Homo sapiens: one gene and its partners. The protein of the gene in region 1 interacts with the protein of each later gene in a pairwise test. Each region holds a gene or a part of one and is shown on either strand. Other genes may lie near its edges. The genes, in order: EEF1A2, MAPK6 and ABTB1.

Region 1 (3,652 bases):
AGGACCCCGACGGAGAGCAAGGGGGTGCTGGAGCCCATCTCCCGCCTCTCGCGGCCACTCTGCTGTAACAAGCAGCTCGCACCACCAGGGACTCCTGGGTCCCGGGTCCCGCCCTCAGCCGTGACCCTCACCCGCTCCAGATGGGGAAGGGATCCTTCAAGTATGCCTGGGTGCTGGACAAGCTGAAGGCGGAGCGTGAGCGCGGCATCACCATCGACATCTCCCTCTGGAAGTTCGAGACCACCAAGTACTACATCACCATCATCGATGCCCCCGGCCACCGCGACTTCATCAAGAACATGATCACGGGTACATCCCAGGTGAGCAGGGCACAGCAGGCGGGGCTGGGGGAGAGGCCGCTGCACCCTTCAAGGGACACTGGGGGCCCCTGGGGTCACTGGGATGGTAGGGTCTCCTGTGCTTCCTGTGAGGGCAGGGGACCCCTCACCTGGGCCACCCTCACCCAGTCTGGCTCAGAGCCCCCCTAAGGATGAATCCAGTGCTCTGGCATCTGAACCAGTGCCTGTGAAGGCATCCAGCCAGTGTCAGAGTCCCCAGATAGATGGGGGCAGATGGGGACGTGGACACACCTTCATACATGGAGGGGTTGGAGGCCAGGATGGGGAGAGTGAGCAGTGGGCAGAGGTGCCACCCGCCAGGTGTAGACTGTATGACATTTCAGGGCACTCACAGAGACGCACGGACACCCCAGACACAGCACCCTGCAGACAGCAGGACACATGCCACCACCTCCAAACTGCTTTGATAACTGTGACTTCTATCCGTCCTCAAGTGAGGAACAGGAGCAGATAGGCTGAGTGACTTGTCCAGGGACACACAGCCCACTGGTGGTGGAGCCAGGGCTGAACCTCGGTCCCCTGACCCAGGGCCTGGCGATGAGCCCCCATGCTGCCCTTGAAGTGGGGACCCCCATGCCTCCCTCCCCAAGGCCCCAGTGGGCTGCTCAGGCCCCAGCCCGCTGCCTGGAGAGGCCTGGAAGTGAGGTGGGGCCAGGCTCGCTCTGTCCCCTGCCAGGCAGGCGGGGCAGGGCTCACTGTGTCCCCTGCCGGGCAGGCGGACTGCGCAGTGCTGATCGTGGCGGCGGGCGTGGGCGAGTTCGAGGCGGGCATCTCCAAGAATGGGCAGACGCGGGAGCATGCCCTGCTGGCCTACACGCTGGGTGTGAAGCAGCTCATCGTGGGCGTGAACAAAATGGACTCCACAGAGCCGGCCTACAGCGAGAAGCGCTACGACGAGATCGTCAAGGAAGTCAGCGCCTACATCAAGAAGATCGGCTACAACCCGGCCACCGTGCCCTTTGTGCCCATCTCCGGCTGGCACGGTGACAACATGCTGGAGCCCTCCCCCAACGTGAGTGGCGGCTAGGGCGGGGCGGGCCACGGGAGCTGGCTGGACCCCCTGGCCCAGAGCGAGGCACCGGCAGGTGGCACGGGGAGGTCGAGGGCCTGTCCCCGGGAAATGCAGGTTCCCCTCGAAACCTGCTGGGTTTCCCTAACTGGCTCAGGGCCCGGCGGGGAGCCCCATGCCCCTCAGCACCGGGCTTTGCTCCTACACTCAGCCTCCCACGCGGCTGGCCGGGGCCAGGGCCCATCTACGATGTCAACACAGCAGGGGCAGCGGCCTCCAGCACCAGGCCCATGTGCTTGGTCTCCAGAGCCCTGCCATGGGGGCGGTCGGTTTCATCTCTGCCAGGCCATTGTCCTGGTCCTGGACACCGTGCAGGGGCTTTGGGCTGGGCCGTGGGGGCCTCCTTGGCTGCCTCCCCTGGGATCTTGGAGCAGGGTTGGGCTTTGGGAAGTGTGCATGCTTCTGGGCTTGCTGGGATGGCCAAGGGTTGGCTCTTGGCCGGTCACCTGGGAGCTCAACGTGCGAACAGTCTGTAGCCCAGGGACTCTGCCTTGGCTGGAGGTGACGCGTGGAGACACTTGCAGAACCTGAGACTGTTCCCAGGGTTCTCCAAGCCAGAGGAGACCCCAGAATGGCCACCACTAGGCTCTGCCAGCACTGTCGCTGCCCACAGTGAGGGTGCAGGTGTGGAGTCTAGAGACAGCAGGGAGACAGACCAGCAGCACTGAGCCTGGAGCTGAGGTCTGGGGACAGAACTGGGAGGGACTCCCCCAGCTCCGCCTCCATCTCACGAGGCTCGGTGTTGTTTACCTGTGATGGCGTTTTCCTCATGGGGTATCATGTGGCGAACGCCACTCTCCCCTCCCCAGGGAGGCCTCCAGCCATCAGGGACCCTGCACTCCCCTCTGGCCTGAGCTGCTAGGTGGCTCGTGCTTACACAGGCCCTGGGGGGCTGGGGCACTGTGCTGCCGGCCCCCTCCCCTGCTCCCTGTTTGTGGCAGGTGGCCCAGAGGGAGGCTTCATGGGATGGGAGTGGGGGCCACACTAGGAGAAGCTCCGGACAAGGCTGGGCCAAGCTCGGAGGCAGCACGGTGTCCAGAAGCTAGGGTGGGGCGAGGCTCCTCCAGCTCTGTCCCTGGCCTGGCCCTTGGCCAGACTCAGCATCCTCCTAGTCAAGTCATCTGCCCTGCCTGGAGCTGATGGTCAGGGGCCCGGGGTTTCGGGGACTTGGGGCTGGACTGGGGATTTGTTCACAGTGTCAGCAACTCCTGAGCAGCCTGGGCTGGGAAGGGTGCTTTCCCTCTTTGTCCTCCTCCTTTTAAGAGGGATCTCCTTCCCAGAGTCCCTGTGATGCTGGGGCTATGGGCTGGGGAGGAGCAGGGTGGGGAAATTCCTCATCTCAAAGGGCACGAGGCAAGTTTAGCCTGAACAGCAGTACTCCTGGAAGCACCCTGGGGAGGCCTGAGGGTGGGGAGGCCACCAATGTCTCTTAACGGATTGATTTTCTCCCTTTGGTCCAGATGCCGTGGTTCAAGGGCTGGAAGGTGGAGCGTAAGGAGGGCAACGCAAGCGGCGTGTCCCTGCTGGAGGCCCTGGACACCATCCTGCCCCCCACGCGCCCCACGGACAAGCCCCTGCGCCTGCCGCTGCAGGACGTGTACAAGATTGGCGGTGAGCAAGGGCGCTGTGCTGGAGCTCCTGCCTGGCCAGCTCTGCCTGCCCTAGACCAGGGGCCCCTACAAGGCATCTCAAGACTGGGCTGTCTCCAATCTCTCCCCTTACCACACACTTTCTGTGGGACAGTCCATCCCACATCCATCCATCCATCCACCCACCTCCCCACCCATCCATCCTCTGTCCATCCATCCACCCATCCATCTATCCACCTCTCCATCCATCTATCTATCCATCCATCCATCCATCGATCCATCCATCTCCCCACCCATCCATCCTTCACTCCATCCATCCATCCATCCATTGTCCCATCCATCCTTCTCTCTATCGAACCATCCCTCCATCTCTCCATCTATCCACCTCCCCACCCATCCATCCTTCTGTCCATCAATCCATCCATCCATCCATCCATCCACCTCTCCATCCATCCATCCATCTCCCCACCCATCCATCCTTCTCTCTATCCATCCATCCATCCATCCATCCATTGATTGTCCCACCCATCCATCCTTCTCTCTATCCCTCCATCCATCCATCCATGCATCCATCCATCCATTGTCCCACCCATCCATCCTTCTCTCTATCCATCCATCCATCCTTCCATCCATCC
Region 2 (3,652 bases), on another chromosome or scaffold:
AACAATGTAAACACTGTTCAGTTCCGTAAGAGAGCCCACATCGTCTGTTAATTGGCTTCCACTGGGACCAAGAATCTCAAACACTTTCACAATGTTATCATGGTCAAGTCTTCTAATAATTTTGATTTCACGTAGAGCATGTTTGACACTCTGGGGATCAGTAAGGACAATTTTCTTGATGGCTACTCTTTTGTCACAGTCATTGTCTACAGCAGAAAAAACCAAGCCATTGCCTCCACAACCCAATGGTTTTAAGTCCATATACCTAGAACCCAGATCAAAACCATGAATGTTCATGAGACTTTCAAATTTCTCTGCCATTTTGAAACCCTTACTATTGCCTTTTCCTTTCAAATTGAACTTGTGTAAACAAGGAAGAAAACTGGCATCAAAAGGAAAGATCTTTCAAAAAGGGAGAAGAAAAATAATTATGCTTCCACAGCAAGATGGTTTCTTGATGTTCATTGCATATGCCAAACAGGCCTGTCGAGTTCCCCTTAGATTTAAAGCTCAAAAAGCTCTATTCATATTGAGAATTAAAAAGATTGCAGTACTCATAGTTCAAGAAAGGGGCAGCAACTCTGCAGACATTTAACGAAAACAAGAAACTCAAACGGAATGAAATGACATACTGTGCACTCAGATTACCGTGCTAAACGATTTAACATTTAACAAAAATGTGAATAAATATGCACACAACAGGCTTCTATGAACATTCTCCTCACAGTGCAGATACATTCAGTGTTGGACTGGTCCTGAGCAGCATCATTCTAAGGTGCTGGTAAGCACTATTTCCGTTTTGCTTCTTTTTTTCCTTTGTTGCTATATATTTATTTCAACAGGAAGCCCTGGCGGCTGTTGGTTAACAGAAGATGTCTTTTGTTAGTGATCAGGTGGCTCCAGCTCACCACAATCACAATCAAAGCTACCGTCCATCTTACTCTGATACAACCTGGGGGGATGAGAAAAAGAAGAGAGTCACCATTGCAGGAAATACTCTTTTCTTCAAATTTGTAGTATGACACAAAGTAGGCATTTAGCAATAAACTACTACTGGTACATTAAACTTAATTATGGTCATTAAGTGACAAATTACCCTTAATCAAAAATAGCTTACAAAAATGTTATCAGCAATTCACACACGTTGGCCCGGGCTCCAGATTTCACTACACTAGATTCTTGGTAACAGGCTCATTAGGTTGTACCATTTCTGAAATGCCAACAAGTATGGGAAGGTTCATAATATTTTTATAGAACTTGAGTTTTGTGAGGGGTAAAACGTTAGTAACATCTATCTAAATATCTAAAAGAATATAGAAGAAGCCTGCAATGTGTTAGTTTGTTAAAAAGCATGTTTACTTATTAACTATGCCTATCAATATCCAATGAACAAAAATCTAACAGCACAAATATGCAAATAATGTTCTTCAACTTATAAGAGTAAACTTGAACAATGAATAATACCTATGAAAAGGTATTTAATGTGACTGATAGGAAAAGATTACCTTAAGAGAACATTTCAGATTGAAAAAACATGCATCTCTGTTAATGTCAAGTCTGAGGAGTGTAGAAAAACAAACTTTCACACAATAGTGGTTGGAGTTTAAATTAGTAAAAACTTCAGAGCAATTTGGCATAAACATATAAATGAATAAATAAATAGCGTACTCTATGACCCGGCCATTTTTCTTCACAGTAAACTCCCTAGAGAAATGCTCATTTTTTTTTGGTAAAGAAAATTAGAAACAACCTCAACTTCATAAAATAGGAGAACAGATAAGTAGTTATATGCATGCAAAATAGTTTTTTTTGGTAAGTACATATGTATATTGCAAAACTAAAAAAAAAAAAAAAAGGAAAAAAAAATGAGACAAATACCAAATTCATAATGATTACCCGGAGATTAAGGAAAGAGACCAGAATCATTTATCTGCGTTTTAATGTGTTATTTATTTTAAAATAACAAACATGGCAGATTACTAGAATCTTATAGAGCTGGGTGGTATGTATATGAAGGTTCATTATATTGATCTCTGTACACTTAAAATATTTCATACTTTAAAAAATATCCTATAAAAGGGCAGGAAAAAATAGCCTCAACTCCAGTAGATGGTTCCCTAGCCAGCCTGGAAAAAAAAAAATGCAACTTGGTTCTTTCAGTTTCTTAATGGCCTAATTGCAGAGTACCCAGAATACCAGATATGAGGCATTATGGAAAATCAGGTGGTCAGAATTCCTAACAAATAAGACCAGACAATATTTTAGGCAGAAAGAATAAAGCCACCAATTTATTCGTTTAATATATAAACATATATTGAGCAACTACTATATGCTAGGCAGGAGCAAACCTGATATGAGCAAAAGGATTCTGGCCCTCAGTAAACGCAACTCATTGTCCAATAGGAGAAAGACAGCTTTAATAAAAACTGATACTTACTATATCCCTCAGTTCTTTTAATAAATAAGAACGGGTCTTGTATCTGCTTAATATCATGAAGGATACTAATAGTATAATAGCTTTATTTTACTGTAACAGAAACGGCTTCTCCTGTCTACAAGTTTTTCTCTGCTTCTCAGAAATCAGCCCTCCTAGCCCGCCCCCCCAAAAAAAAAGTCCTAAAAATTCTGTAGCTTACCAGTCTATCTGTAATAAAACACTTAAAAGTTGAAGTTTGTGAATAAACTTTTGAATTAAAAAAATATCTCAAGGCCGGACACGGTGGCTCACGCCTGTAATCCCAACACTTTGGGAAGCCGAGGCAGGCAGATCACGAAGTCAGGAGTTCAAGACCAGCCTGGCCAATATGGTGAAACCCCGTCTCTACTAAAAATACAAAAAGTAGCCAGGCGTGGTGGCGCATGCCTGTAGTCCCAGCTACTCAGGAGGGTAAGGCTGGATAATCGCTTGAACCAGGTAGGTAGAGGTTGCAGGGAGGTAGAGGTTGCAGTGAGCCGAGATCCTGCCATTGCACTCCAGCCTGGGGGACACAGCGAGACTCTGCCTCAAAAAAAAAAAAAAAAAAAAAAAAAAAAAAAAAATCAAACAACTTAAGTCCAACATATCATTTGCTATTATCTAGCTGAGCCATTAGTCTGTCTTTGGTCTTTAGCCAGTGGATTTTCAATGTTGTTATATGATCTAGCTCATGTGATAGTGGAAATAAGTAATAAAAATAAATTTTTGTGGCCAGGCGCGGTGGCTCACGCCTGTAATCCCAGCACTTTGGGAGGCCAAGGCAGGTGGATCTCCTCAGGTCGTGAGTTCGAGATCAGCCTACCAACATGGAGAAACCCCGTCTCTACTAAAAATACAAAAATCAGCCCAGCGTGGTGATAGGTGCCTGTAATCCCAGCTACTCGGGAGGCTGAGGCAAGAGAATCGCTTGGACCTGGGAGGTGGAGGTTGCAGTGAGGTGAGATCACGCCACTGCACTCCAGCCTGGGCAAAAGAGCAAGATTCCGTCTCAAAAAAAATGAATAAATAAAAAATAAAAATAATTTTTGTATTGGTAAAAAAGTTTCAGATTTTTAAAAAGGGCTTTAATACTGCATGTCTCCCTCCCACCAAGTTTTTTCTGTTTGTACACATCTTGATTCTTCCTGCTCGCTCCCCACTAAATACCCTAGGAAAACCAGTTTGTTTGTTTTTTGA
Region 3 (2,889 bases), on another chromosome or scaffold:
TCCGGTGGCTTCTACAAAAACAGCATTGCTTGCCCTGCCTTCCTCTTCCTCCTAGAGCATGAGTTTGCCTAGGACCCAATCTCCATGGCCAAACGCGATGCCCCAGGCAGGATGGGTAAGCTACGGCCTGTGGACCAAATCCAGCCTGTTTGTGCAAGTAAAGTTTTATTGGAATGCAGCCTCACCCACTCATCTCTGTACTGTCTCTGGCTACCTTTGCGCTACAGAGTTGAGTAGCTACAACAGGGCCATATGGCCCACAGAACCTGAAACACTCACCTTCAGAGAAAAGGTTTTTGACCTTCACCCTTAGGCATACAGGGGCAAGATGGAGGGATGACCTGATCTTCCGCAAGCCACTTGCCCTGGGGCACCCACCTCAGTCAGAAGTGAAGGAGAAACAAACTCCCCTCTTCTTTAAGCCACCAGATATGGGGATTGCTTTATAGTGCGCGCGCACGCGCACGCACACACACACTCTCTCTCTCTCTCACACACCCTGGCAGAGCAAACCTTCAGCACTCTGCTGCTGCCCTGCAGCCTTGGCTTACGGACACCTTGGGGCAGCTGGAGACAGAGGCAGGCAGCAAGGGAAGAGGAGACTGGGAACCCAGAACCCCAGGGATCTGCAGCACCACAGAGAGGAGGCTGTCCCCACCCACCCTCCACCCTCCTGCTAGAGAAGCTGAGGATCCCAAGTGGCTGACAAGTGTGGAGTGTCTGTGACACAGGCTCATCACTCATCCTCTCTCTGGAGCCCAACAAGGCTTCCTCTACCTGAAAGAAAAATCCAAAGTCCCACAGCCTTCCCCTCCAGCCTTCTCAAAACGTCAACCATGGGGCCAGCTGGGCCCTTCCACAGACCCCCAGGGCCCTGGCGCTCCCTCTCAGCCCACGGCAGCACAGGTTGTGTGCCATCCCCAGCTCTGCCTGAGCCCCCACCTCAGTGTGGTCGCTGTACATGTAGTAGAGCACGTGAGTGAAGACGTCGGGTGAGATGCCATGCAGGGTGACGGCTGGGGGGCCCCCTGAGGTCGCTGGCTCCTCGCTCTCTCGGAAGTGGTCATCCAGCAGGGCTCGGAAGTAGTCACTGCGGCCACAGAAAAAGGCCTGGGGGAGGCCGGGCTCAGGAAGTGTGAGGGCCAGGGTCTGTCTCCTGAGGAGCTAGACGGGGGCTCAGGGCAACGGGCTGGGGCCAGGGGCAACAGGAGGGCACAGGCACCTTGTGGCAGAGGAAGCTGCAGCCAGCCACTCGGAAGCAGATGTCAGGGCAGCTGTTGAAGCCGTCAGGACAAGGGAAGGGCAGCTCCCAAAGATCACCCTGGGGTACAGAAGAGGTGACCCCATCAGAGCAGTTGTTCACAGAAGTGAACGACTAGGTTCAGAAAAGGGAAGTAACTGGTCCAGGACCACACAAGGAATTGAGCCCAAGTATCTGGGCTGCCTGTCACGGCCTGCCATCCCAAAACGCCCTTCCTGCCCACCAGCCCCGCACTTACTCGGAGCTCGGGGGGCAGGGCACAATCGGCCAGCAGCGCCATGTCCTCCCGGAGGCGGGGGTCTGCAGGTGGGGGCTCGATGGTCAGCACCTTCACACACGTGCCTGGCTTAGACGCCACTACAGGGGAAGAACAACTTCAGGGAGCCAGGCCAGCCCTGCCAGGCCGCACCCATGGCCCCGGGCCCCAAACCCTGCTCGCACCAAACTCAGACACCTTCTCGCACTTGGCCTCCAGGTCGCTGAGCAGGTCCCACAGCTGGCATTGCTTGGCCAGGCGCTCACAGTCACTCACATGCTCTACGCCAATGTCCAGGCGGCCTGGGGGCAGTGGGGAGGATGAGGGCCTGCGGGACCTCAGCTGTCATCAGGCCCACAGAAAAAGGGTGATCCCCTCCCACCTGGCCACCTGGCTGCAGGACTAGGACTCCTGGGCCCACTTGCCACCATGGTTTCCCCATCAAAAGCTGTTCTACAGGCCCCAGGGAACAGATGGGAGGGCCTCAGCATGTGGGTGGGACAAGCTCTTCCTGAGCAGGCACACTAGTCCTCTCTCTTGCAACCCAACCCGAGAGGCAGCTGGAACCACCCCGGGGGGACCATGAAGTGTCTAGAGGTGAAAGGTCAGCCCAGCCACACCTAGGTGTACTGCTGTCCAGAAGGACGGCCCACTCCCTCTCCTCCTACCCTGGACCCAGGGGGTCACCTGTGTACAGGTACTGCAGCAGGGCCCCAAAGGCCACGGGGTTGATCTGTGGGCAGAAAACCAGAAAGTAATGTCAGAGGCAGCCACCCAGCACAACCTCCTGCTGTTCCTGGACAGTTCATGCCCCTCTGCCACCCTGAAGGGACATACCAGTGGGTGCCTGAGAACCACGACACTCTTGCCCTTCCATTTGGTGTCCAGCATGTTGGCAAAGTAGGCACTACGTGCACCCAGGACGCAGCGATGCACCCGGAATGGCTTCCCGTGTACTACAAAGACCACGTCACTGTGGATGCCCTGCTCTAGAAGCCTGGGGAGGGACAAGCCAGGAGGGAGGATACTTGGCACAGCCCCACCCCATTCCTCGGAGCACTCAGAACCCAGTGCAGGCCACAGTCAGAGCAGACTCGCCACACCCACCAGGGCCACCGCACCCCATGCTGCACCCCTCGTGTGCCCTGGCTCACCGCTGCAAGAAGTCGTCATAGTAATCCCGCCTCCTGCAGGAAGCCGTGACCTGCTTGTAATCGCGTAGAGCCCGGCGGATGGGGTCACTCAGTGCCCCATAGAGGCAGCGCTCACCATCGAAGGTGTTGGCCTCGCAGCGGGCTCCTGGGGGAGGCAGGGCTCACCAGTTAGCAGGGAAGGGGCCTGGGGGAAATTCTAATCTCCCTGTCCCTCCTCC

What was found.
Region 2: the proteins of EEF1A2 (region 1) and MAPK6 interact in a two-hybrid assay, tested with the Homo sapiens proteins (one large-scale study listed by BioGRID and IntAct).
Region 3: the proteins of EEF1A2 (region 1) and ABTB1 interact in binary tests that used the Homo sapiens proteins (3 or more experiments, as listed by UniProt).

Annotation. Positions count from the first base shown.
Region 1 is NC_000020.11:63,492,524-63,496,175, reverse strand, and holds part of EEF1A2 (elongation factor 1-alpha 2), read left to right. Parts: intron 1-140; coding exon 141-320; intron 321-1,074; coding exon 1,075-1,371; intron 1,372-2,888; coding exon 2,889-3,039; intron 3,040-3,652. UniProt on the Homo sapiens protein: Translation elongation factor that catalyzes the GTP-dependent binding of aminoacyl-tRNA (aa-tRNA) to the A-site of ribosomes during the elongation phase of protein synthesis.
Region 2 is NC_000015.10:52,043,130-52,046,781, reverse strand, and holds part of MAPK6 (mitogen-activated protein kinase 6), read right to left. Parts: intron 3,005-3,652; exon of another isoform or gene 1,118-3,004; intron 953-1,117; 5' UTR 322-952; coding exon 1-321. UniProt on the Homo sapiens protein: Atypical MAPK protein. Phosphorylates microtubule-associated protein 2 (MAP2) and MAPKAPK5.
Region 3 is NC_000003.12:127,675,897-127,678,785, reverse strand, and holds part of ABTB1 (ankyrin repeat and BTB/POZ domain-containing protein 1), read right to left. Parts: intron 2,817-2,889; coding exon 2,672-2,816; intron 2,515-2,671; coding exon 2,355-2,514; intron 2,251-2,354; coding exon 2,205-2,250; intron 1,820-2,204; coding exon 1,703-1,819; intron 1,619-1,702; coding exon 1,500-1,618; intron 1,322-1,499; coding exon 1,223-1,321; intron 1,111-1,222; coding exon 943-1,110; intron 1-942. UniProt on the Homo sapiens protein: May act as a mediator of the PTEN growth-suppressive signaling pathway. May play a role in developmental processes.